2 separate regions of the Homo sapiens genome follow, and region 2 is linked to region 1. The links come from fine-mapping of genetic effects on gene expression. A gene starts in region 1. The other region holds a variant in brackets. All regions are shown on one strand. Distances are between the middles of the regions.

Region 1 (14,418 bases):
CCCCATTCTACAGGCAGGCAAACCGAGTCCCAGATGGCTGAGTGACCTGTCCATGTTCACACCACTGGTGAGCAGCCGGGGCTGGACCAGTGGCTTGTACACTCACAGCCCTGTCCTGAGCCTGTGTTAAAGCCGGCACTCTATTTTTCTGGTGTCATATCAGCTGCTCACATGTCTGTCCCTCACTCCATGCCCTACATCCCCTTGTTCCAGGGTCCGGCTTGCAGTCAGCACTTTTACCATGGGAATGCATGCCTTAGTTTAGCCCACCTTCCCTGGGAAAAAGAGCTGGATATACACACAACATACCCATGTCTCAATTGTCTGGTATGCAAGTGATATGACATATTTGTGTTAATAAATTTGTGTCTTATATGCATTTGTGTGCAGGCAGTCACTCAAACTGGGACACTTTTGATCTAAATAAATACTAAGGTGGATCCTTGGACAACTGGCAAAGCCAGGACTGTCAGATAAATGGTCCCCTTGGGCCTAGCATAGTGGCAGAAGAGTCATATACCTAGCTTTGAATCCTAGCTCTTCTAATTGCCAGTAGTGGCCTAGTGCAAGATCCTGCCCTTGTAAAAGAAGATAAATACAAGCTGGCCATTATGAAGTGCTTTCTGTTGCCAGAAACTGTTCTCAGCACTCATTCTGGTAAGCACTTTATGGCTGGTAACTCAATTAATTCTCCCAACAATCTGACATGTATTATTTTTATAAGATGCGATTATTATAATGTCCATTTAACTTGTGAGGATATTGAAGCTCAGAGGAGTTAAGTAACTAACCAAATGTCACCTGGTTAGTAAATGGGAGGATCTGAATTCCAGTCTGATTCTGGAGTCTATGCTCCTGGCTTCGACACCTCCTTACCTTTCAAAGAACTCACCTTAGAGGAGATCAGAGAATAGGAAAAGAGATAAGGGGAGTAAAACAGTGCCTGGAACACAGTCTGACACCTGTAGATGCTCACTGTTATTACTAGTATTTTTAAAGCATACGTCTGTGTTTGCTGGCTGTGGGCTGGTTCATGTCTGAGAGGTGTGGACCAACAGCAGGACTTTGCCCAGAGACCTGGCCGAGATGGGCTAAGTGAAAGGTGGAGGGCACTGGGTCCATTCACTAAAATACATTCCTATCTGTTCACTGGCTGTTCATTTCCAAGCAGGGGAAAAACCCTCGGTGCCTCTATTTTGTGCACACACTGCCCTCTGCCATTGGTCCTGGATACTGCACTTTCTACCCCTGTGACTCTGGAGGAAAGACTTCCCTACAGCAGAGAGGGCGTGGGATGACCCTAGACAGGCTCTGCGCCCCTCGCGGAGCTGCCAGTGGGAGGGGATGCTGTTTCACTCCCTGGCATGCCCAGGCTGGCCCCAGCCTCTGTGTTGCCTGGGTCTGACTCCTGTCTCCTCTTCCTCTCCTCTCTGGCCTCTCCTCTTACAGGAAGGAGGAGGGGGCAGGGGCTGATGCTGCCTGCTGCCTGAACCTCCACACCTCTTATTAGAGAACCTGAGGCCTTCAGACAGCTTTTCCTGAAAATCTTGGTGCTGATCCAGAGGTCCTTGGAGTGAGGGCCCCCATGACTCAGCTGAGACCCCCTCTCCTAAGCCCTGCCTGCACAGTGTGCAAACCCCTCCCTCCTCTGAGAACTCTTTCTTTCTCAGGCAGTAGATGAGCCAGGCATGGAGGCACTGGCAAGGCACAGCCAGGGGGCTCCATAGGAAGAAAGGCCTGAGAGAGGAACACAATCTGGAAAGGCTTCCTGGAGGAGGCGGTAACAGGGATGTGAATTGTTGGAGACAGGGAGCTTGTTAAAGACTGCTTAGGTCCCATTTGGCAGCTGCTCTGGGGTTTGAGCCGCCCTTTGCCAGCTGTTTCCAATCTCCATCTCAGGGGCTCTGCCACTTCTGCCACCTATAGAGTGGCAACTACACAAAGGACAATTGTTCTGCACTGCCCCTCAGTTCTTACATTCACATTTAGCAAAGCTTCCAGGAGCACCAGAGATGTTGAGGGTCCCTCCTCTCCTGCAAACCAGCTGCCATTGGCTTGTCCATCCCTCCTCCCCGGTAAGTCGTCCACGCTGCATCCCCGTTTGGATGCAGGCCCCTCTTAGAGGGCTTATCCTCGAAATCCCTCCTTCTTGCTTCCAATTCGTCCATCTCCAGGAGAGATTCCAGATTCTTCTTCCTGGAACTCCAGATGCAGCTCAAGTTCTAGATTAAAGCTGCTCCGAGCTCAGGAACTGAACCATAGCGTGGTGGATATAGGACTGAAAGGGACCTTAGAAGTCCAGTGTGGAGGTACACACATTTTGCAGTCGGCCAGGTGTGGATCTGAATCCTTTTGTTGATTTGTTTCTTTTCCCAGTTATAACTGCAATGTGGGCAACTCAGTTTCTCTGCTCAATTTCTCTTTCCTCACTTGTAATGTGGGAAAAACAAGAGTATTTACCTGACAGGTTGGTGTGAGGATGAAATGAGTTAAAATGTGCAAAAAGCTTAGCACAGTGACTAGTGCAAAGCAAGCCTCGTCGAACCTGAGGCACACCTGCCAGGCTAGCTTCTGGCTCCGTTCCAGTCCCATTACATTCTCCTCCAGCCTCCCAGCCCACATCCATTTCCAGAAGGTTCTCTCTTCCTGGAAGGGCTGCTGGTTCCTCTGAGCCTTCTCCTTGGCCCCCTGTTAAAACATGCAGCCCCCACCCTTGCTCCACGCTGCCCCTGTTCCTCTTCCCTGAAATAGGAGCCACCAGGACCCAGGACCTGCTTTCACCGGTTCTCACTTCCAGACGGGTTTCCCCATGATGTGAGTCATTCTCCCCAACTCTTGGATCTGCAGACTCCTGGCTTATTTCATAACCTGCCTCCTGAACCCACAGCTGTGTGTCCAACCTGATAGCCCTGCATAAGACACCACTTGCCTCAGCGGGGGCCCATGACAATGGGAAGATGGAGACTTGGTCTCCTGGTGTCAACATCTCCTGCCTCCTTTTCTGTAGGAGAGGGGGATAGAACTTTCCAAAGGGGCTGGCTGTGGTCTTGGCTCCAGATGGAGGAGCTCACTCTCTGACCCCGAGGCTCAGGTGCCAGCGTCAAGCCTGCCCTAGGCCCCACGGACCCAAGCCTCTAATTCCATGGCAGGTCTGCATCGGTGGGGTGGTGCTGAGGGTCCCTCACCCCACAGCAGTGAGAGGTTCCCTGTATCCAGCAGGCCAACCATCCCTTCCACCCGCAGGGTGGGGCTGCATGGATGTGTCTCCCATGGAGCTCTGAAAGGCTCATTTCAGCCCCCTGCCCCAGCCTCGGGGTTCATCCTCCATTCTCTCTGTTTTTAGCCCTTCCCTCAGCAGCAACTTCCCCTCCTCATTGACCCAGCCTTCCCTAGCTCCTTTCTCTAAAGTCTCCACTTCTTCTATTTCTTCTTGATGTGCTACTTTTATGTTTCTTCCTCCCAATTTCCACATTGCCTATGGTGGTCCAGGCCCCTAGTGCTTCTGCCCTGCCTGGTATCTCTTCCCTTCTCCTGTCCCTTCTTAACACCTTTCCCCAGGGCCCAGCAGGCTCAGATATGATGTGGGCCCAGGGAGGGAAGCTGGTCATTCCTTCCACACTGGAGGCAGTTGCCACCCCAGGCCTGACCCACCACTCCAGCACTCCCCAGGGACGGTGCAGGGCTGGGCTTCTCCTTCCTGTTTGGATGGATTGTATGATGCTCTGATGATGGGAGATAGAGAGCATGTCATTAGTGATGATGTGGCTTAATTACAGCCCAATGCACAGCCTGCTTGTTTGCTTTGCAAATGGGCAGAGGAAGAGGTGGATCAAGCATCAAACTTCACAGTGAAGATCAAAAGATTAAGGCATTTCCCCCAGCCTCCCTGTTGTCTTTCAAAAATGAATCCTGTAATAAAGGGGGTTGGGGTGTCAGACAATATAAATTTCTTCCTGAAGTGGCTGGAGGGGAGGTGGAGGGGGTCTGAGGTAAGGAGATGGATTAAATAGTGCCCAGATGGGGGCCTAGTGGAATTTTAAAATGAACAAATGGAAGAAATGTGTCCTTCCCAGGGCAAGACAGTGCTTGTCTTCACATACCTATGTGCACTGGAGCTGAGAAAAGTTCCCTGTGATGACTAGGTAGGTGGTGGGTAGAGTCGTAAAGAGTTCAAAGAGCTTTTCTTTAAAAAAAAAAAAAAAAAGAGGAGAGAAAGAGAACTAAAGAGTGTTTGATCTACAGTAAGTGGCTAGGGGCCTGTTCCATCATAAAAACCTTAGGAGCCCGAGCAGGGAGAGAACCAAGAATGGAGGAGCTTGGAGAGACAATCCAGGAGGTGCTGAAGACAAAAGGATACTCAGGCTGGAACAATGAACAGTAGTCCGCGGATCCCCAAGCCAGAGAAAAGCTAGGCGGGGCAGAGTTCCTGGTGGACAAGCCCTTGGGGGTTCCAGTGATGAGGGAGCTGGGAGACCACCACTTTTCCCCAGGGATCAGAGAGGAAAGACCCTGGGAACTGGCAGACAGATCTCAGGCAGCCCTGGAGAAGGAGGCAAGTACTCGGGGAAGCCAGGAGGCTCCCATGACCCTTTGTGCAGGAGGACAGCTCTGACCAGAGGCTCCAACTCATCTGTGGAACGTGAGCCCATCCCCAAGACTTAGGCAAGCTACCAGGGCAGCCCTGGAGGGGCGTGCAGGTTGTGCTGAGCACTAAGTCTCAGTGCGGGGGAAGTAGAGGCTGAAATCCAGCCATGCACCCTGGGAAAGGGCTGCGTCTGCCCAGAGGAAGGGGTGCCTTTTTCTCATGATTGGCATAAAGGCACCATATGGCCCTGCAACCACTTGGTTAAACTGCTCTGATGTTTCTCTCTCCAGGTGGGAAGGGTGGAGCATGCCCCTCCTGAGCTGGGCTGCAGCAGAGAGGAGGGAGACACCCATGCTGGGAAGACGTGGGGAAGGTCCTAGACTCAGAGAAGGGTGTCTGCAGAGATGCAGCTCCCCCACGTTTACCCCGAGAGGTGCAGGTAGAAAGTTCCATAAGACTAGCAGTGATAAGGAAACTGCCAGGTTTCAGGTCACTAAACATCCTCTGCTAAGTGTTTAATAAATAGAGGCTTACTGCACAATATGCTCTACACTAATATGACACCAAGAAATGGGAATTTTGACCATGCTGACTGCCTGTCTGGGATTTCACTCAGCACAGTGCCTGTAGCAGAATAGGCATTGAGTGAGAGGGATTGGAATTAAAAAAAAATTGATGCCATCCAGCCACCTGCTTTCTTCTCATAATCTGAGGAATTCATTTAACAAGAGTGTGTGTGAGGGGAAAAGGGGGTCTAGTAGGGATGGAGACAGACCAGGGATTGCTTGAGTGTTTAAGTTTTACAAGCTTGGTAGACGTGACTTCAGTGATCCTTAGGGTCCACTGGAGAGTCGGGTACTCAGAGCTCTCCAATATGGTGAATGACGTTCTGGTTTTCAAGGGTCCAGTTTTTTCCAGAACAGTGCAGAACTTTCCAGAACTTCTGTAGCACTGAAAGTCGGACATTCTGGAAAACCTCTCAGCCCTAGGAAAACTGGGATAGTTGAGTACTCTACAAAATAGTATCTAGATAATCCCTATCATCTTGCCTGGGGCGCTTTTCCTATTCCTCTGTGCCTAGAGTTTCCTCTTCCCCCACTCACCAACACAGAGCTTTCTGCTTCACTCTCCACACCCACTCCAACTAGGCCCCAAGCCATGTCTACAGCCTGGGATTGCAGCAGTGGGTTCTGCCCATGTCTCTGGTGCATATCCCATCTGTCATCGGACTCCTGGCACAGAAAATTTAATGTCAGGAAAGTGAAGGGTTTTGGGAGACACATGGGGAAAAAGCAGATGAACTCTATTGTCTGGGCTAGCTAACTTTGGACTAGCATGGAAAAACAGGCTCCTTTCAAACCGGTTCAGACAGGCAGAGGGTATTAGGTTTCTGCACTTAGCTTATTTTCAAAGGGAAATCAGAGAACTCAGTTTCAGGTCCTTTCCAGTGCTAAGGTGCTGTGGTTTGTCCCCAGGTCTTGTCCCCACAAAGTTAGCTCAAGAATCCTTCAAGCTTCTTTTTTTCTTTCTCTCTCTTTTTTTTTTTTTTTTTTTTTTTTGAGATGGAGCTTCGCTCTTGTGCCCCAGGCTGGAGTGCAATGGCACAACCTCAGCTCACTGCAACCGCTGCCTCCTGGGTTCACACGATTCTCCTGCCTCAGCCTCCCAAGTAGCTGGGATTACAGGCAGTGCCACCACTCCCAGCTAATTTTTGTATTTTTATTAGAGATGGGGTTTCACCATGTTGGCCAGGCTGGTCTGGAATTCCTGGCCTCAAGTGATCTGCCCACCTCGGCCACCCAAAGTGCTGGGATTACAGGTGTGAGCCACCATGCCTGGCCTTCTTTCTCTTTTCTTTAATGACCTTGATCTACAGAATTTGGGTCCTTCAACTGTTGTTCTGTGCCCAGGAGCAGTCAAAGGCCAAAGGGCTAGAGAAAAATGACATTCACTATTCATCTTCAAACTACAGACATGATGGTTACGGCCATTGGGATTTTTCACGGGGCTGCTTTTTATTTCCCTCTGGTGAGGTGCTCTGCAGAAGGGGATTCTTATCCTCCAGGAAGATGATGAGAGATTATGGCCCAATTGACTCAGCTCCCTTGGGTTCCCTGGGGTACCTGTGTCTTCCACAGCCCTCCTCTTGCAACACAGAGCCTATTCCTTAACGGAAAGCATTGGCCCTGTGAAACTGCTTCCCCTCAGGACCCTCGCATGATGCCACACTGTCTACAGGGAGAAGGGAACTGTCTAGGCCTGCGCCGCCATCTCTGCCTCCATCTCTGCTTCCCAAGTCGAGCCTTCCTTTATAATCCGCCTGGGCCTCTCGGTGTCTCAGGGATGCCCCATGCACCTGCCCAATCTGGCCGACCTTCCAGTTAGCAACCCCTACCTCAGAGAGCCCAACCTCTCTTTTATTCTATTTTTCCATTTCTTTTTAATTCAAGGATGGAGAAGATTTAGGGTAAGCAAAAAGTAGATTTTCATGTACTTTTTAAATTCTTTTTTTTTTAGATCAGAATTTCAATGAACAGCTTGTCTGAGTTACTTGTTCAAGCACATAATCCAATATAGGCATGTAGAATTAAAACTACAGCAATAACAACAGCAAAACAACTTTTGTATGTTTATATTGTTTGTCCTCCAGTTCAATTAACTTCCTAAAAGAGAAAGAGAGTGTCTCAGACATCTCCCCCTGTCTAGCATAGAGCTGAACACACAGTAGATGCCCAGTTTTATATGCATTTAATGAAATAATCTCTTCAGGACTTGGGACACTCATTAGTCCAATGAACTCAAAGACCAGGGCGTGGTGTGTGATTACTAATTAAAGGGTATCCGAAACAGTGAAGGCTGGAACTCTAGGGATCTGACTGCATAGGCCAAAGGCAATTCCCCTGCAATTAAGCTCCCTAGGAACCAATTAGGAGGATTGCTTCTGTGTGGCCACAATCACAACACTGTTGTCAGGAAATTCTACTCTGCCTCTACCTTTTCCTTCTCCGTCACAGCCACTCTGCCACCATCATTACCACCGCTGTCAGCAACCCTTACTGGCCAGCCTCCAGCACAGGGCCCAGCCCACAGGGGCACCCTTTGTAATGAATACAAAGGGTGCCAGGACCCCTAGCCTTAGTCCTGGCCCTCCCCAGCCCATCACTTCTGAGTGTGGATGGACCCCATTCATTCTGCTGCATTTCCCTGGGCACCTGGATATCTGCCTTTTGTTTACCCTAAGTCTTCTCCAGCCTCAAAGATCTAGCCTCATGCCTTTTCTGCTTTGTAAATGCCTTTTCGTTGAAGTTCCTATCAGATTGGGGCTCATAGTCAGCCAGGCAGTGGTGGCGCAAAGACTCAGCTAGCCAGAACTATGATTATTTCCCCTCGGAGCCGGGCAATGAAGGGCCAGCTGCTGGTGATTCTAGAATAAAACAGCCGCTCATGAAAGCAAGTCTCTTCCTTCCCCCTGCCCATCCTTGCTGTGGCTGATTTTCTCTCTGAACCTAGAGTGATGTCTTATCTTGAGCAGCTACCCTTTGCAAGCCCCTAGTTCAGCAACAACCTCCCCTTCTCCTCATGTCACACTTGAATCAAAAACAACAGAAACACAAGCACAAGGTCCCCAGCCCACAGCTGCCATGCCTGCCACATGTACCACAATGTCTTTGCATCTTTGCCACTAACTTCCATCTCTATCACATAACACGATGGTCAGGAACATGCACTTTGAAACCAGACGCACTTGAATTCCGGCCCAGCTCTGACTTACTAGTTGAGTGAGATGGGTAAGTTCCTCTGTTTCTTCAACTGTAAATGAAGTTAGTTAAAGAGGGTTAAGTGAGACATCCCATGTAGACATCCCATGCCTGGCACATGTGAAGTGAAGAATAAGTGTTAACACTTTCTGTTACTACCATCACTATTATACAATGATGTTACTACCACTATTGCTACTACTGCCATAAGGAATACTTCCAGCCCCACTACCTCTGAGCCACTACTCTGAGCCAGCACCTGTAGTGGGCGTTGTTGGGAATATAAGCCTGGCTTCTGGAGATCCCCAAAAACCCTAATCAAGATGAGCCATTCCTCAGTGCACCTCTGATTCGTGGTTCATAATGCTTTTCTGTCATTCCAGAGCTTTGGCTCTACTTTAAGTTCTTTGTGTAGATTCCTCTCATTGGTCTGCAGGCTTCTTGGTGGCTGGGGCCCTAGGACAGTCACCCCCAGGTTAAGGAACTCACGCCATTTTTTGTCTTGCACACTCCAGCACAGGAGGGCGGCAAACCCAGCATCTGGCGGCACCCCTGCTGCTGCCCTTGCAACCTGACTTAGAAAACCACAAGCAACCCCTTCGATTACATGCTCCTGTGCTGTAGGGCTAGGCCCTGCCGGGAAAGCCCCCCGAGACAGGGTCCCTGGGGAAGGACCTTCCACCGTTACCTCAGGGGCTGAGAGGAAAACACCCTGTGAAGGGGAAATTCTTCCGGGGCAGCTTCCAGGCCTAAGCTCCACGCTCCCTGCCCAGGTCAGCTTCTCCTTTTCCCTCCCCAGCAGTGGGAGCAGTTGTCTTCTGCCCTCGGCTGGATCCAAACAAGCCAAGTGTTCTCAGTTTAGTTATAGGAAGTGGTCAGAGTCTTGCATGAGGGCAGCTGCCAGATACCTAGCTTTGAAATAATTTTTTTTGTTTTTTGGAGACAGAGTCTTGCTCTGTTGCCCAGGCTGGAGTGCAGTGGCACAATCTAGGCTCACTGCAACCTCTGCCTCCCAGGTTCAAGTGATTCTTCTACTTCAGTCTTTTGAGTAGCTGCGACTACAGGCATGCACCACTGCGCTCGGCTGATTTTTGTATTTTTAGTAGAGGCGGGGTTTCACCATGTTAGCCAGGCTGGACTCAAACTCCTGACCTCAGGCAATCTGCCCTCCTTGGCCTCCCAAAGTGCTGGGATTACAGGTGTGAGCCACCATGCCCAGCCCTGAAATAATTTTTTAACATTGCACTGTACCCACACTACCTGAGCTATAAAGCAGTGATACTTCCTGTTTGAAAATTGAGTGCTCCCTGAAGTTGCCAGGAAACTGGCAGAACAGCCCACCCTGAACCTGGGAGTGAAACTCAGGGGGTCCTGTTCCTTGGTGACTTCAGCCATAGGGTGTTTCCCCAGGGAGTGCAGGGGCTAATATCCCAGCTCCTGCCTGACTTCCTAGAGTAGGACAAATAATCTTATCCAGGAGAGAAAATCCAACTGGAGGAAATGCAGCTGACTGGAAAGGTTCTCATGGTTGTAAGGCAATGTCAAGGTCACCACCACCCAGGCCCTGCCCAACACAGAAGGCCCTAGACAATATCCCTGCTAGGGGGGCATGCAGATGCTGCAGAGTCATTCCTCTTCCTTCCTGGGGTCCACTTCACTGCTAGACAGCTGTGGTCCTTAGCATGGCCCAAGGACGGACCCTGGAGCTTCTTACCCAGATCCAGATCTTTGAGGACATCTTTCCAAGAAGAATCATCTTTCCATGTCTTCTTTTCCCTGAGGTAAAAATTCCAGCTTCCACACAAGACCCTATAATAGAGAGATGGTTTCTTTTGGGAAGAAACCTGGGGTTTTTCAGGTGAGTCTACTCTGGGGAAAGCCAGGCATTTCCCCTGCTCCTTGCTGATGGTTAAGCAAGAAGGAGGTAGCACTGGAAAAATAAAGCTAGGAGATCTCTTCAGGGGATAACTCTTCAGGTCCTTAATTAGGGAGCACAGATAAACTCCAAATTAGACCACTCCACTCTGCAAGGGCAGCATATTCCACTTGCTATCAGAAGAGCTTTGTTGCTGCAAAGGGCTTGGAGATCTCTGTTCTACAAATTGCCCATGGCCCCTGGCCCATCAGCAGGGGAAAGGAGATAGTGGAGAGACGCCCTTTTCCGGTGTCCTGGGCTCAACAGGGATAAAAGGAGGCAGCACTCTGGGTGCCCCATCAGTGTGTTCTCTACCCCTTGGAGACTGCTTTTCTCCAGCTCTGTCAACTCAACCTTTCCCACCATGAGTCGGCAACTGAACATCAAGTCCAGTGGTGACAAGGGCAACTTCAGTGTGCATTCGGCAGTGGTGCCAAGGAAGGCTGTGGGTAGCCTGGCTTCTTACTGTGCAGCTGGCAGAGGGGCTGGCGCTGGCTTTGGCAGTCGGAGCCTCTATAGCCTTGGAGGGAATCGGCGTATTTCTTTCAATGTGGCTGGTGGCGGCGTTCGGGCTGGAGGTTACGGCTTCAGGCCTGGCTCTGGGTATGGAGGGGGCCGGGCCAGTGGCTTTGCTGGCAGTATGTTTGGCAGTGTGGCCCTGGGGCCTGCATGTTTGTCTGTGTGCCCACCTGGGGGCATCCACCAGGTCACTGTCAACAAGAGCCTCTTGGCCCCCCTCAACGTGGAGCTGGACCCTGAGATCCAGAAGGTGCGCGCCCAGGAGCGGGAACAGATCAAGGTGCTGAACGACAAGTTCGCCTCCTTCATTGACAAGGTGGGTCTCATAGGAGGAGGATGAGGCCGCACCCTGAGGCCTGAGCAGTTTTCCTGCTGCCTGGGAATGGACTGCACACTGTGGCTGGAAAGGTGCAGCTGGGCCTCAGGAAGGGCTTCCTCACCATTAGGGAAGGAGAGTAGGTCTGTGAGCCACGGAGGACAAAGGAATACATGAATATATCGGCTTCTTTGGCGATTTTGCAGGGAAGGATGGGAAGCTGGGTAAAGAGCAGCCCTTCCTTGACAAAAAAGTGATGAGTTTCTTGAGGACAGCTGGATCTTCCAAGAACATGAAAGGCTAATAGAATCCAGCAGTGTTCAGAGGGAAGGGCTCATGGTACAGGAAGAGACACTTAGTTGAGACATAAGGAAGGACATCTCCTGGGACCAGGGCCGAGCAATAGAAGAAAGCTGTGGAAACTCCTTGAGTGAGTTCTCAGTGATGCCTTGTCCAGAAGGCTAGGAAATGAGCACTTGTAAAGGATCTAGTTTGTGTGGAATGGCAAGGGTGGAGAGTCAAGACATGAGCAAAAATGACTACAACAATCTATGGCAAACCTGGGGAGTCAATGGTGTGTGTCCAGGGGGCATGACTGCACCCATTGTGGTTCCAGGTGTCTGTTGATTTGGGTTCCAGGTACGCTTCCTAGAGCAGCAGAACCAGGTTCTAGAAACCAAGTGGGAGCTGCTGCAGCAGCTGGACCTGAACAACTGCAAGAAGAACCTGGAGCCCATCCTTGAGGGCTACATCAGCAACCTGCGGAAGCAGCTGGAGACACTGTCTGGGGACAGGGTGAGGCTGGACTCGGAGCTGAGAAGCATGAGGGATCTGGTGGAGGACTATAAGAAGAGGTGAGCAGGCTCCACCCGAGGGTCACAGACCATGTTTCCCGTGCCTCTGGGCTCACCTGATCTCTGTGCCATTATTTTTTAGGAGATGGGGGAGTATGCACCAGGGTCAGGAGCTCACATCCCTTTCTCTGGCTAGGGGGAAGGGCCTATCCTCTTTGATGATAACTTCCTGCCTAGTTGATAGGAAGCGGTTCCTGTGCTCCTTGACCCACTGAAATGTTCAGTTGCTGGTGTCGGGAGCCCAATAGGCACCTGGGTGTTTTCCTAACATGCAAAAACTAGGAGACAAGTGAAGCAACTCAGGGATATCTTACTCCTGTCACTAGCCTCTTACTGCTCACCCCAGAGACCCTGCAGGGACCCTGTATCCCAAACATTTGCCTGGCCAGCAGGAAGAGAAAGTTCCTTGGCTAAGGGGGCTAAGGCCATCTACTCTCCCTGCTGGCAGATATGAAGTGGAGATTAACCGGCGCACGACAGCAGAGAATGAGTTTGTGGTGCTTAAGAAGGTAAGAGAGGGAGGAGCCTCCTTATTAGGGTCTCTCGCACCCCCATCTTAACAACTCTGCTCAGGACTTCAGCCCAGGAGGCTGGGGAGGGGGCTGGTGCCTGGTGAGGGGGCTGGTGCCTGGTGAGGGTGGAGTCATAGTCCTGGCCTCCAGTGAGTTGGAGAGGAAAGACACACACTCAGGAAATGGACAGAGACAGACAGAATTCTGGTCTGGGAACTGTGAAACTCGGGTCCAGCTCAACCTTGCTGTGTGACCTGAGGAAACCTACTACCTCTCTGGGCTTTGTTTTCTCCAGGCATAACAGAGCTGCCCCATCCTCCTTTCCCTATTCCCAAAGCTTCAGGCAGCCTGAGAAGAAATTGATATTGAGTGAGCTTTCCTTTGTGGGTAGAAAATAGAAAATCAGGTGGCTTTGAGGCAGGAGTTGGGCAGGGCAGCTGTGGGATGAGGGTTGCATCCCCCAATGACTCTGGGGCCTCTTGGCAGGATGCAGATGCAGCCTACGCAGTCAAGGTGGAGCTTCAGGCCAAAGTGGACTCACTGGACAAAGAAATCAAGTTCCTCAAGTGTCTGTATGATGCAGTAAGGACACTCCTGTCCCCCCACCCTCACCCTGCCTCCTTCCCGACTCTTCCAGGGAGATACCAAAAGGAGAGATTTAGGATCAACAAAATGAAAGATGTTTTGGTAGAAAGGTACAAAACCCTGCACCAGGAGACCATGGAAGTGCAGGATGCTGGTCCTTGGAGGCCATACATACAGGAGGAAATTGATCTTGATACAATAGTGGACTTGCCCACGGGCAGGAAAAGATAACCCAGTGAGGTCTTACAAAGCACAGAGCCTTGGATTCTGTGAAATTGTGGAAAATGCATTATTCACCCGTCTGCATGTGCCAGCGGGCATCTGCCATATGCAGGGGTTCCTGCTGCTGTTAGCTGCTCTCCCTCAGCTCTGCAGACACATCCCAGAGGGCACTTCTTCCCCCTACTTTGTCCCCGTGGATCCTAGCAGCCTATTGGGCCAGGGACCATGGGCCCAGAAGACTGATGGGGCAGAAGAGGGAAGCCAGGGGGTTGCTGAATCTGTCTTCCTCTCTCAATGCAGGAGATCGCTCAGATCCAGACTCACGCCAGTGAGACCTCTGTCATCCTGTCCATGGACAACAACCGGGACCTGGACCTTGACAGCATCATCGCTGAGGTCCGCATGCATTATGAGGAGATCGCCCTGAAGAGCAAGGCCGAGGCCGAGGCCCTGTACCAGACCAAGGTGGTCACCGAATGGGTCTCCTCCCACAGCAGCCCTTCGCTTCCTGGGAGGGGTCACCTGCACAGTGAATGTGAGGAATACTTTTGTGGGCATGCTGAATGAAAGAAAGGTTCCAACCAAGGCTTCAAGGAAAAAAGGAATTCTTAGCAGAGCTTGTTATCAAAGATAAATCATGAAACTGGTATGGATTGAATATATGCAACAGAGAGGATCCCTCACTTCTTTCCTCCATCCACGAACTGCCTGTTCCTCTCTGTTGCAGGTGAAAGAAGTGAGGTGGTAAAACAAACACACTTATAGGAATGGGGGCATGTTGCCACAGGGCAGAGGGAGAATCACAGACTTGCGGGAGTGTAGCCATGGGTGAATTTGGTGGGGGGCGAGTGAGAGAAGGAGAAGCCTGTAGCTCTTTCCTGATCCCCACGGGAAGACTTTCAAAAGGAAATGGAAGGCGAGGAGTGCTCTGAGTAATGGAACTATGCTTTGGGTAAACTGAGTAATGGAACTATGTTTGGGGCTGTCAGGGAGAAAACCCCTTACCTGGGCCCCCAGGACCCTGTCCCAGCACTCCTCTTCAGTTCCGTTAAATCCCACCGACAGCCAGGGTGGCAGGGGTGGCTTATTTACAGGACCCTTCCCCAGTGCCCTTGTCTCATCACCAACTTCCTATCTCTGGGAAACCAGATC
Region 2 (14,268 bases), 21 kb before region 1:
TGGGTGTCAGATGGACCCTGAGTCAGAAGGACTTTGCCACTTACTAATTGTGTAACTTAGGCAAGATACTTCTGCTCCATAAGCCTCAGTTTTCTCATCTGTACAAAGGGGTTAATAATTGGAGTTACCTCATAGAGTTGTCATGAGAATTAAATTTAATGAAATAATGTACGAGAATTATTTAGTTCTTCTAGCACATAGTAAGTGCTCCATAAATGGCTGCCCCTATTGTTTTTAGGTATAGACTATTCTGTCAGGAAACTGAAGTGAGAAGGGAAGTAGAGAATGTCTGATAGTGATCAGAAGATTGTTTGAGAACATGAACTTAGGATACAGAGCATTCGCTATTATGTAAGATTTCTGCCATCTAACTTCTAAGCTTGGGTTCATATAATGAATGCTGACAGCCTCAAGAGACAAACCCTGACATCTGAGCAGCTTAACTTAACACAGCAAAGATTTATTTCTCACTCACTGTCCAAGGCAGGTTAGGGCAGCTGCCCTGTGTGGTTCTCCCTTTGGGTGTCTCAGGGACCCAGGCTCTTCTGCCTTGTAGCCCTGCCACATGGGACACATGAACTCCAAGGTCACCAGACAGGGGAAAAGAGATGGAGGAGGCACATGACCTGCTTACTGCCCTACCCCAGAAATGACACACTTCAATGCCACTCATGTTTCATTGGCCAGTGCTAGTCACATGACCCCAAGCCCCACCAGAACTGCAAAGGAGGCTGGGAAGTGAGAGGAGAGCAAGGTTATTTGGTGAGCTCTGGCAGTCTGTGGCTCACCTTGCTCAGTCTAGATACCCAATGCTCATCACCAGGCTGAGAATTCTCTCTCCCTTGGCCAGTGCAGGGATGATGCTGGCCATGCTCTCAGGAGTCCATGCAAACTACCTCCCTTTGGTTTGGACAATACAACCCTGGCCATATTGCCATAAACTAGATAAGCCTGCCTATTATATTTAGGTCTCCTTCATGTTTTTAGGGAGATATTGTAAGTCTCTTCAGATTTGGGAAATTTAAGTCAATTTAATGGTGAAGTGGAGATATCTTGTTTAGTGTTTCTTAAAGTATATTCCTTGAAACTCTGGCCCCATAAAGTATCTGGCCAAAGAGAGGGCTCAATGGCCTAAAAAGTGGTTTGGAAAACACTGAGTTTTGTGGGGGTTTTTTGTGTGTGACAAGAACAGTACTTTATTTCCGATTCTAGAATCAACTTCCCTCTCCTTTCATCTTTAGTTTTTTTTTTTTTTGAAAAATATAACTTATTTATAAAAGCATTATATGCTCATATTAGAAAATTCAGAAATATTAAAAAATAGAAAAAAAACCCACTGACACTGCCCCATTCACAAGTTCACCTCTCAGCCATCAGGTGTGAAAAACATTAAGTTTTGTATTACCCTTTTGTGCAACAGAAAGTATCATGCATTTTTCTGTTATTATGGTTTAATACCATCCATCTGTCCATCCATTCATCCATCTACCCACCCACCCATCTATATATCCATTTATTTGTTTACTATTCATTAGAGCAGTTTTAGGTTTACGGCAAAATAGAGTGGAAGGTACTTGGGTTTCCCATTTACCCCTTACCCCCACACATGCATAGCCTCCTTCCTTATCAACATCTCCCACCATAGGGGTACATTTGTTACAACTGATGAACTTACACTTATGCAGCATTATCACCTCAAGTCCCTGGTTTACACTGGTGTTCACTGGGAAGTCTGTGGGTTTGGACAAATGTATAATGACATGTAGTCATCATTACAGTACTGTACAGAATAGTTCACTGCCCTAAAATTGCTCTAGCACTAAGCATGTTAATGGGCCTAGAAAGTCCTGCAATAAGATGCCTGCTTCATTTTTTTTTAAACCAAGCACAGAATCCATTCCCATATCTTTTTTTCCCATGATACCTATTAACTTCCCAAGAAGTAGTGTTACAGGGCAAGGAGACCCAGTTTAACCAGCAATGCATTTTCAATTCTCAGCCTAGAGTGGTTTCATCCGTCTTTTGTAGTAAAGATCTGATTTCTAAGGGCAATGTTCCTTGTCTGGTTTACTAATCCAGGGGTTGCTTTAACCCAAGAACTAATGACAGAGGTGGTCACCAAGGCCTGAGGTGACACCGTAAGCTGCTGTCAGAGGCAGAGGCAATGAGAACCCCTCCTCCCAGGCCTCAACCCCCTTTGATCTGCTGACATCCCCACACATCTGAGGCCTTTGAAATCTGCATGTGTCACTTGTGTCTCCTCATGATCTGTAATAAAGGTGATTCAGGGGTTGAGGAATTCCTTATTCATCCAGCCAGTCAACCCCTCATAGGAAGATGAGAAAAGGTCATCTTACAGTTCCCTAACCCTGGGCAGAAGAGCCCTGGTCCCAGGATATCTCAACTCCTTAGAAAATTTCTAGGAAGAAAAAAAAAATTATTTCAAAGACACCCTTTGTCAGTCAATCCTACGTAAAAATTCTCCTCTTTCAGTGTAATCCATTCCTTGCTTTTCTATTCTCAATGGCTGGAATAAATAAATTCATTTTTGTGCTTGTGGAAAAAAAACTGGCTAAAATTACGGGGTAGAGGGAAAATCTCATGTAATAATAAAAAACATAACCTTGATCTTCTTGAAGGGTCTGCTGTCACCCAGCCACACTGACACTGCCCTTCTCCTCTTCAGAGGGAAGGGACTACAGCCCCTCCTCTGAGGCAGCACTGAGAGCCCACCCTCTCTCCCACCTAGGACACCCAGATGCCGTTATCTGTTCATCTGTGATCGGTGCCATCTCCAGCGCTTAACAATGCCCTCACAACTTTGTTCCCCGTGGAGTAAACGCTTCGGCTGTTATTATGTCCTGTCATTGGCCCAGTGGAGGCTATGTCAGCCAATTACCCCCAGGTACCATTTAACCAACCCATGAGGTCCCCAAGGGGAACCCAGCCTTCAGGGTATCACTGAAGGTGCAGTAACAAGCCTTGCCCTAAGCACTCTGCTGTTTCACAATCATCCTAAATGTCCCTTTGGCCAAGGCCTGGGCTGAGCACTGGGGGAGCAGAGGAGGGAAGGGTGAATCCAGGGGGCCCTGTCAATCTGATAGAGGAAATGGAACACACACCCAGGACTCTGGCAGCTTAAGAAATAAGAGCAATGAAATAATCCCACCTGCATGCCAGAGGAACAGGAGAGCTGTTGCTAAGAGAGGAGGAGACTTGAAGGCAGCTTAAGTTTGAGAAAAGGAAATCGGGTTAGGTGGAAGAAGGAGCCTCTGTAGCTTAAAGGGAATGAAGTTCTAGAATCTAGTTCTTGGTTTTAGATCTGAAGAGTCTTGACCTCTTCCTAATAACTGATCACATTTTGATGCTGAATCAGAAATGACTGGGTGGCAAATGACCTGAGCAGAGGTTTGCTGGATGGGATAAATAAGCCTCTTCTGCTATTAAAAGAAAACAAAAATGAAAACAACCGAAAGCCTTAGGAAACACCATCTGCTAAACCATGCCTGAGTCTTCCTGTACCACCTCCCCAGGCCTTCTTCCCTCCCTCCCAGATAGCATGGTCCCCATTCTTAGTCCAGAAATGCTTAGTGGAGAAATCTTTTCGCTCTGGTCCAAAGTCAACCCTCAACACTTGTGACCAGAGGTCTCTGTGTCCTGCCTTCTCCAACAGACTGAGAGGTCTCTGCAGACGGGGCCAAAATCTCCTCCTTCTGAACTTCCTTCTTGCACAAGGGACAGAGCTGTCCTCATCCAGAAGCCTGGGAGGCAGGAGGAGGACAGGCTAAGGATGATTTTCTGCGATAGTCTTGACTCTATTCATGGCCTTCTGAAGCAGAAGCAGCCTGGACTTCTGCTTCACACACCTCCGTCTCCCCAGACACACACCCAGAGGGTCAGCCCCACTGGAAGTTTCCAGGGGTGATCTTGGGAGTGATAACCCCAGTAATTGGAGGCCAGCAGGTGGAGATAAGGTCGCTAAGCCATGATAATGCAGGAGGTGAGCCAAGTAAATGCTGGGTTCTGGGTCACTTTACAGGGATTCATGGGGAGTTCACGGTGGAACAGACAAAAATCTCGGTGAGTGCATGGTAATTTCCTACATGAAGAACCCAAGAGGCCTCAAGGGATCTAAAAGGTGTTGTCGACATACAAATTAGGCTGACTCCAGCCAGCCAGGCTATTTAAGGGGCGAGCTGGGCCGAGAACGCAGCGGCTGTTTGCGCCCCTTCTGCCTCCCGCGCGGCCAGCACCGGTACTTGCGAGCCATGAGCCGCCAACTGACCCATTTCCCCCGCGGGGAGCGCCTGGGCTTCAGCGGTTGCTCCGCGGTCCTCTCTGGCGGGATCGGCAGCAGCTCCGCCTCATTCCGGGCCCGGGTCAAGGGCTCGGCCTCCTTTGGCAGCAAGAGCCTCTCCTGCCTTGGGGGCAGCCGAAGCCTGGCGCTCAGCGCTGCTGCACGGCGGGGCGGCGGCCGCCTGGGCGGCTTCGTGGGCACCGCCTTCGGCAGCGCCGGGCTGGGGCCCAAGTGTCCCTCCGTGTGCCCACCCGGGGGCATCCCTCAGGTCACCGTCAACAAGAGCCTCCTGGCCCCGCTCAACGTGGAGATGGACCCCGAGATCCAGAGGGTGCGCGCCCAGGAGCGGGAGCAGATCAAGGCGCTAAACAACAAGTTCGCCTCCTTCATCGACAAGGTGAGTCCTCGGGCATTGGCCTGTCCCTGCGTTGGGCGCATGTGCACAGTGGTGCTGGCTCTGCCACTGGCGAGCTGTGTGGGAGCGTGGGCGGGTCATAACCTCTCCGAGCCTCCCTTTTCCATTTGTAAAATGGGCACAATAATGGGTCTTACTCCAGTGGGTTGCGATGAG[G/T]CTTAATTGGGATGTTTACGAAGTGCTCAGAACAGTGCCTGGCACATACTTCCAATAAACAGGATGTATTAGCCCATTTTCATGCTGCTGATAAAGACATACCCGAGACTGGGAAAAAAAAAAAGAGGTTTCATTGGACTTACAGTTCTCCATGGCTGGGGAGGTCTCAGAATCATAACGGGAGGCCAAAGTCACGTCTTATATGGCGGCGGCCAGAGAAAAATGAGGCAGAAGCAAAAACGGAAACCCCTGATAAACGCATCAGATCTCGTGATACTTATTCACTATTAGGAGAATAGCAGGAGAAAGACCGGCCCCTATGATTCATTTACCTCCCCCCTGGGTCCCTCCCACAACACGTGGGAATTCTGGGAGACTTAATTCAAGTTGAGATTTGGGTGGGGACACAGCCAAAACGTATCAAGGACCTTCATTTCTTTCTTGCATGAGACAAGACTGTGAGAAGGGAGGGGTCAGGATGTCCAAGGAATGGGCACTTTGAGAGCTCCCAATATCAGAAGAGGAGATGGGACCCACATTCAGGGCAGGGCATTAGGAACAGAGGCCAAGAGACGTTGCAGGACATGGTGCTTGGTGCTTGAGGAGTGGGGTAAGTGTGTAGCCAGGAAGATGATAGAGGAGGTGAGAGAAAAGGGCCAGAAAACTGAAGGGTGAGGCTGAGGAGGCACTTGGAAAGAGTGCATGTAAAGTTACAGGTGTGTGCTGAGGGTGGGGCATCCAGAAATTGGGGTAATAGGGAAGTTGTCTCTGGAGCTTCTGAGGCAATGACCCCAGTGAGTGGAGAGGAGACAGGGAATGGACTTCTCTTGTCTCCACCTGGATGGAAGGTCTAGACGGTGAGTGATAAGGGGACAGCCTGATAACAATAGCTGACATTTATGGTGCCGTCCCAAGTGATTCTCATTTACAATCACAACCCATGATTCTGTTGTTGTTCTGCCTTGCAGATGAGGATATTAAGACATGGGAGGCTAAGAAATGAGCTCACCTTGGACAGGACAGTTGGTGGTGGACCGAGTGTCACCACTATGCTAGGGAAGAGGAATTGAGGTGGCGGGAGGGCACAGGTCTGCATGGAAGAAACACAGCAGCTATTCCAGAGGCCAGAGCATTCTCTTGCTCTTTTATGTCTGTTGTTCCCTAGCATGTTTCCTTCTGCCCCTCAAGCTGAAAGATAGGTGAGAAGAGGAATGCTGGTGTGTGGCAGAGGGCTTGGAGTTATTGAGTCTAAAAATGTGCACCCTGGTCAAGTATGAAGGAACTTTGTGAAGATGTGGTAACTTGCTGTGAACAACAAAGAAATGAACAAACCAAGTGCAATTTAGGCTACACAACAGGAGGAACGCTCTAAATGCCAGTGTGCTTTCCAATGTCACTCCCCAGTCCCTGTTTCTCCCCTGCTCCCCATTTCTCTTTACTCAGAAAACACCAGCATTTATAGCATGAGAAGCTACCTCTGTCTCATGAAAACTCACTGAGGCAGAGGCAGATGGTACCATTGCTTAAGCCCTCTTCCTGATTCCATATAGACCGGGTCCTATTTCTTGTCTTGGAGATCCAGGTGAGCATGTCCCTCGGCTGAATCCACCCCGGGATAAGCCTTGTTTTCTCCTACCCCCAGTCCCCCAGGATGGCTGCCTCTGGTTTTTGGGGCCCTTTCCCCACTCTTGAGAGGCAACAACATGGGGACTCTGGGCGATGACTGCCTTTGGGTTCCAGGTGCGGTTCCTGGAGCAGCAGAATCAGGTGCTAGAGACCAAGTGGAACCTCCTACAGCAGCTGGACTTGAACAACTGCAGGAAGAACCTGGAGCCCATTTATGAGGGCTACATCAGCAACCTGCAGAAGCAGCTGGAGATGCTGTCTGGGGACGGGGTGAGGCTGGATTCGGAGCTGAGGAACATGCAGGATTTGGTGGAGGACTACAAGAAGAGGTGAGTGAGTGGCAGGGAATATGGCCCTGGAGGATCTGATTTCAAATGAGGTTTTCGTTTGGAGATGGCATTTTTGCTTCTGAGATCCTTGCTGATACCGGGGGAGGGAGGAACATCCAGACAGAATGGAACTAGGAAAAGAATAGATCTACCTACACCGGTTCTCCAAACTGTCGAGGAAATGTGTGCTCAATTTCTAGCACTGAAAATGAAGGAATGGGGGAAAGAGAGTTGTATCAAAACCAGATGGACAACCCAAATGCCTTTGTAGTTCCTCCTGAGTGAAGTTTTCCATGGCAGTTCCCAGAATGTAAGACACCCCACCAATTCCAGGGCAAATTTTAAATCTAAAAAAAAGAATTTAAAAAACTTATTCCATGTTGAATCATGGCTGTGCTGCTGAATCCTGGCTTTAAAGAGAATAATTGAGAATGTTTGAGGATGATTGAGAATGAGATGGAACCAGAGGTTGTGTCCTCCTCCAAGTTGAGCTGAATATGAGACAGTAATAAATCAAGGCTCAGTGTGACCTGATATTTTGGAAGTTTGCTTCCAGATGCCAGGATTTCTAGGGACAGGTGGCTTCTTCCACAATTCAAGTGGCTGGAGGTCGTCAGAGCTGAGTTCTTTCTCTTGCTCCATATTCAATCTACCTGCCCATCCCTATTCTGAAATTCCTTCAAAGCAGAACCCTGGCCCAAGCCCTGCATGGAGAACCTAAGGAAGGAGGAGACACGGTCCCTGACCTCAGAGAGCACACAGATTGTGAGGACAGGCTTAAAGAACAGTTTCAGATAGCCACCAACAAGAAGAAACAAATATGGTGTGAACTGAGATAGGTGGAATTAAGATGGGAACTGGAGCCCAACTAGAGATGCAAGCAGGGTCTGGAAAGAACAGGGGGCTGCCAGACACAGTCCTGAAGTCCCACATGGAGGCGTCCAGGGGCAGTGCTATCTCTGGGCCTTTCAGACTGGAGTGGCTTTGTGCTCCTGAATCACCATGAACTAGTTGAGCAACCACAGATGAGTCTCTGTGTCCTCTGTGAACTTTAGTTTTAGTATTTATGAAAACTAAATACTGATACTTGCCTTGCTACCTAAAAGAGCTATTGAGAGGATAATGCCAGCCAGACAGTAGTGTATTAGCAGCTTTGAAAAGAATCCAAGTGCTACACAAATGTAAGGCATTGTTTTCCCTATGTCAGAAGGCTTGGATTTGAATCCTAGCTTCACTAGTAACTAGCATTTTGACCTTGGCCAAGTATTTTCATGTCTTTTGCCTCATCTATAAAATTGGAATAATAATAGAATCTACTTCATAGGGCTGTCGTGGGGATTAAATGAAATAATTTGTGCTAAGAATTTAGCACAGTGTTTAGCATGTAGTAAGGGGTACAATAAATATTAGCTGCATTTACTAGGAGTATTTTAAAACTGATTTTATCACCCATCTCTTCCACCTGTGGGTCCTCATGCCAGGTTTTTGCATCTCTCTTATGATATATCATAAGAAATGCTAATCATATGTCATTGTTGAATTAGAATTTTCAGTGCATTTGCCTTCCTGTTAAACTGTGAGTTTCTAGAAGATGCACAGTGTATATGTCTTAAGCATCATTGTATACGCTGAAGCTTTTCTCATAGGCTCTCTAAAATGATTTTAAAAAACTCTTCACAATTAAAACATTTCACAGTTAAAAAATTGAAACTACAACCTTTTAATCATAAGTGTAAGTAGTTTCAAAGGGTGTAATTTCAAACGTATTATGTGTGTTCCCATTTAAAATTGTAATAGCCACATCACTCATTGAGATGTACCCAATTGCATCCAGGTGCTGCAGCAGGTTAGCGCCCATCACCCTTCATCTAAAAAGCCAATGAATGGGCTCTGCTTTAAAAATCATAACTTTTACCTTGATCCTTTTCCTGTTTGGACTCCAATTTTCATCCCACTTTCCCCACATAATTTTGTTATAATATATTTTTATGCCTCTAAGTCTTTTATTGATCACCCTATCACAAAATATGCATGTATCTCGAAACCTTAGAAAGTTTACTTCTTGTGGCCTGTAATCCCAGCACTTCGGGAGGCTGAGGCACGTGGATCATTTGAGCTCAAGAGTTCGAGGCCAGCTGGCCAACATGGCGAAACCCTGTCTCTACAAAAAATATAAAAAATTAGCCGGGCATGGTGGCGTGCGTCTGTGTTCCCAGCTACTCAGAGGCTGAGGCATTAGAATGTCTTGAACCTGGGAGGCAGAGGTTGCAGTGAGCTGAGATCAAGCCACCGCACTCCAGTCTGGGTGACAGAGCAAGATTCTGTCTAAAAAAAAAAAAAGAAAGAAAAAAAGAAAGTTTACCTTTTGTGATCATAAGTTTTTAAATGTCAAAAGACTTATTTTGGGTTGAGTTATCCAAACAACGAAATGTATTGCTAATTTTGTTAAATAAGTATTAAACATAAAAAATGAAAAAAAATTGAAAATACTTTTCCTAATGAGTTGAATGGGGCAGATTTTTTTCTAAGTGGCTTAGTTATCCATGTATGAATATTGATTCTTATTGAGCTGAGATAGGATTCTAGTCCTGTGTGTTTTCCATTCTTAGGTGAGTGCTGGGAAACTTTAATTATAGAAGTAGATTTTAATGGAAGGAGTTTTGCAAGCCCAGTGTTATTTAGTTCTCGGAATGCCTTTCCAGTTTTTCTGCTTTTTCTTTCTTCCATAGTGCTTACTGTTTCTAACATGCTGCATGATTGACACAACTTATTTGTTGTGTTTGTTATTTGTCTCTCTCTGCTTCTTAAGGGCAGGGATATTTGTTTTGTTTTGTGCCTACAAAGTACCCCACACTCAACACATATTTTCTTAGGTGAATGATTACATGTCAAAATCACATAATGACTCACCATTAAAGATCATGTTTAACCATCTGTCAGCTGACAATTCAAATCCTTCTTTTTTTGAAAGCAAAAATTAAAAACCATCTGACTTGCAAAAAGAACTTGTTTCCTAGTCAGTAAAGTCATTATCTTCCAAATTTCTGGAAAATTTTTCAATAAGGCTTTACCAAGACTGATCAAATGGCCATGCTTATACAACTTATTCTGTCCTTTAGGAGCACCACGTTTAATCCAATGGATCAGAAAGAACTGGAAACATAAAACATTGTTAGTACTCAATACACCTATGCCAATTCTTTATCCTTAAAAAATAATGTGATTCTGCCTCATGTTTTTGTACACGAATACACACACTGGCACATTTTTGAAACTCTGGAGCTGCAGATTTACCTCATTCAATTTATATAGAAAATATCTGCCCTCTAGCTTCATTGGAAAAACCAATTTTCATATTCAAATCAGAGACATGAGTTGCTTTTCATCAGAAAAATCCTGACTTCATTTCTAAATTCAAGTAAAAGTAAGAATTTGTACTTTAGGGACTGTTATAAAATCCACTCAGAATAAACTAAGAAATATGTCTTGTATAATAGGTTATTGAAAGCATTCAAGATTAAAATGATTTAGATTTAATATAACTAATATAACTATTTATGTTATAAAACAAGAGAAATCAATATGTACTTTTTAATGATTTAACTTTTAATTATTCATTGTAATATATTTTTAAATAATAAGTTATTTTTAAGTTAATAATGCTATAAAACTTATTTTTCTTTTTAATGTGTGTATTGAACTCTGGTGTTTGGCCTCTAGAAGTAAATAATGTAAAATTATTTACAGCTAATGTCATTGATTTTGATAGCCCACTTGGTCAAAAGTTTTCTATGTATTTTAGGAAATAGATATAAACTACTAAAAATTAATTGGTCCGGCAACTACCATATGTCTTATTTTTATTAAGAGGGGGTAGACATTATTAATCTTTTTGTAAGATAATATAAAATAAAGATTGACTGTAATAGAAATAGCTGTTTCATGACATAATTTGATTAAAAGGTTTCAGTTATCTTTTGAATAAGACACAGAATCTGGGATAAATCATATAAACTGCTTTCTGTGTGTTTTATATAGCATAACTAGAAAGATCTGCAGCCTCAGAAAACATCCCAGTCACATTTGAAATAGCTCCCTTCACTACCCTGCACTGCTCAGCCATTCAACAGTGCTTTTTTTTTAAATTATTATACTTTAAGTTCTAGGGTACATTTGCACAACGTGCAGGTTTGCTACATATGTATACATGTGCTGTGTTGGTTTGCTGCACCCATTAACTCATCATTTATACTGGGTGTTTCTCCCAATGCTATCCCTCCCCCCACCCCACAACAGGCCTCGGTGTGTGGTGTTCCCCTTCCTGTGTCCAAGTGTTCTCATTGTTCAATTCCTACCTGTGAGTGAGAACATGCGGTGTTTGGTTTTCTGTCCTTGCAATAGTTGCTCAGAATGATGGTTTCCAGCTTCATCCATGTCCCTACAAAGGATATGAACTCATCCTTTTTTATGGCTGCATAGTATTCCATGGTGTAGATGTGCCGCATTTTCTTAATCCAGTCTATCACTGATGGACATTTGGGTTGATTCCAAGTCTTTGCTATTCTGAATAGTGCCACAAAAAACATATGTGTGCATGTGTCTTTATAGTAGCATGATTTATAATCCTTTGAGTATATACCCGGTAATGGGATGGCTGGGTCAAATGGTATTTCTAGTTCTAGATCCTTGAGGAATTGCCACACTCAACAGTGCTTTTTGAGGAGGGGGCTTCCAGGGACATGCCTTAGGAATGAGCGAAGAGCTGAAAAGGATTGTTTATGTTAAGTACATGAATAAAAAAGCTACTATCTAGCCTTAATTCTTTTTTTCAAAGTTTTACTATGGTAAAATACATATAACAAAATTTACCATCTTAACCATTTTTCAGTGGACGGTTCAGTGGTATCAAATACATTCATAATGTTGTGCAACCATCACCACTGTCCACCTCCAGAACACGCTTTCCATCTAGTGAAATGGGAACTGTATACCCACTTAACACTAATTCCTCATTTCTTCCCTCCCCTCTTCCTAGCCCCTGGCTCCCACCATTCTACTTTCTGTCTCTGACTTAGACTACTCTAAGTATCTCACATGAATGAGATCATTTGTCTTTTGGAATATTTGTCTTTTTTGTGATTGGCTTCTTTCACTTAGCAAAAGGTCCTCAAGGTTCATCCATGTCGTAGCATATTGTAGAATTTTTTTTCTTTCTAAGTCTGAATGATATCCCATTGTATGTATACACCACATTTTGCTTATCCATTTAGCATTAATTATTTCTTACCAATGCTCTATTTCGTTACCATACTCTCACAAATGTCCTGTAATGCATTCTTTGAGAATAATAAGGGATGGAAGAGGTAAGCTCTTTAAATAAAATGGTTAGTACTCTTACCTCCCCAATCAACAATATGTCTGTATTAAGAACATCCCAGTCCTAACCACATTTCTGTGTCTTAGACCTTGCTTCTGTTTCTGCTTCACCTGGAACAGAAATATGTATAAGAAATAGGTATAACATACAGTTTGAAAGTGAGAATGGTGCTTTTGTTTGGTGCCTAGGAGGTTTTTGCACCCTGAGCCATTGCACAGTATTAAGATGCCATGTGCCAGAAGGGAGTGTCTTTTCACCTCTGCTATAATGTGGGAGGGGCTAATTGTGACAGGGAGAGGGACAGTAGAGTCTGCATGACATCTCAACCACAGGTGCTCTCTGAGGCAGGTAGTTTTAAGACAGAATGCACAGGCACAAAGGAGCTGGAAATTGATTCCTTTAACTATGTCCTTGCCTGCATCCTCTTAAGCAAGGTTATGTGTGCCCCAGGGGTATGGGAATCCCAGTTTGAAGACCCCCACCCTGCAGCTCTCAGCACAGAGGTGGTCACTAACTGTTCAGTGAGTGTTTGCAGAACTGAATTACCTCATTGTCTTGCCCCATGCAGGTATGAGGTGGAGATTAACAGACGCACAGCTGCTGAGAATGAGTTTGTGGTGCTCAAGAAGGTAAGAGGGGTGCCAGGTGGGCTGGAAGAAGCCTAGACCTGACCACCTGGCACAATGATGCTTGTAGGGTGAGGAAAGGGGCCCTGTAGGTCACTCAGTCCCTTGGGCAGGGGTGACTGGCACTCTAACTTCCCAGCCCCTCCCTCCAAGTCCCTTGCCTGGGATGCATGCTGTTTCTAGAATTTGCCAGTCTAAAATCTGGGCATTTTACTGCACTACTGGTGTAGCCATTGCACTGCACGTTAGTTGGTTTACTCTCAGGGACTGAAGGGGACTCTCAGGGAGCCCCCCATGAAGCACAGGGTGAAGGGAGAGGAAAGAGCAAGGCTTCCTGTGGCAGGGAGGGAGGGATGGGCAGGGGAGGCCCTCTCAGGGCGGCTTGACTATCATGTGCTCCCAGGACGTGGATGCTGCTTACATGAATAAGGTTGAGCTCCAGGCCAAGGTGGACTCCTTGACAGATGAGATTAAATTCTTCAAGTGCCTTTATGAAGGGGTAAGGACTTGGCTGACCTCTCTTGTGAGATCTGCTCCTTTAACAAGAGGTTTCTGGCCCCTGGCTGGAAGGTGGTGTGGACCAAGAATTGGGAGGGAGAAAGCTTTCAACCTGGTGCCCCTGACATTCACCAAGGCCCTACTGGGTGCTGAACAATGAGCTAGGTTTTGAGGAGTCCGTGAAAGAGAAGAAGTGATTCTTGCCCTCCAGGAGTTCACAGCTTGGCAGGAAAACACCACGTAGCTGAGCTTTCAGAGAGCAGAGGAAGGAATGGTGGGTTCTGCCTGGGCCATCAGTGAAGGTTCTTGGAGAGAGAGGAGAAAGAGGACGATTTCAGTGGGTGCTGAGGGGGGCAGAAAAATAGAAGGTCCAGGAGCCTGTCCTGTGCTAAAGCATGAGGAATGAAGAAGGGCGCAGAGGCCTGGGGAAGGGACTGGTGCTAGTGACTCCCTAGGGGACTTCACATGCTAGGTAAAGAGTTCAGACTTGGTCCTATGGGTGGAGGGTGGCGGTGGCTGGTTTCTGAGGATGAGAATGTAGAAGGGTGCAGGAGTGCTCCTGAGTGTGCAATGGAGAGAGGAGTCTCAGCGTTTGGGGCTGAAAGCCTAAGGCACTTCTTCACGTGCCTGCCAGGCACTGGTGCTGAGGCAGAGTTCAAACGCTGAGGAAAGGCAGAGGGACAGTGAGGAATTTGCCCAGGGAGGACCAAGAGAACTGGTTCCTCATGAGTACCCCTTAACTAGCTCCCCTCCCCCAACCGTCCCCAGGAGATCACTCAGATCCAGTCCCACATCAGCGACACGTCCATCGTCCTGTCAATGGACAACAACCGGGATCTGGACCTGGACAGCATCATTGCCGAGGTCCGTGCCCAGTACGAGGAGATTGCCCTAAAGAGCAAGGCCGAGGCTGAGACCCTGTACCAGACCAAGGTGAGCTGGTG

What was found. PIP is the estimated chance that this variant, and not a neighbour inherited with it, causes the effect.
Region 2: its variant is fine-mapped to the expression of KRT74 in whole blood (TOPMed, PIP above 0.99).

What each region holds. Positions count from the first base shown.
Region 1 is chr12:52,569,982-52,584,399 of GRCh38, reverse strand. KRT74 (keratin 74) reads left to right here and starts at 10,557. Exons shown (of 9, transcript NM_175053.4): 1 at 10,557-11,093; 2 at 11,733-11,947; 3 at 12,396-12,456; 4 at 12,946-13,041; 5 at 13,567-13,731; 6 at 14,416-14,418. The coding sequence starts at 10,623. RefSeq lists an enhancer at 11,963-12,132.
Region 2 is chr12:52,591,453-52,605,720 of GRCh38, reverse strand. KRT72 (keratin 72) reads left to right here and starts at 4,258. Exons shown (of 9, transcript NM_080747.3): 1 at 4,258-4,694; 2 at 6,609-6,823; 3 at 12,769-12,829; 4 at 13,230-13,325; 5 at 14,093-14,257. The coding sequence starts at 4,269. The variant G/T (reference allele first, on the strand shown) is at 4,869.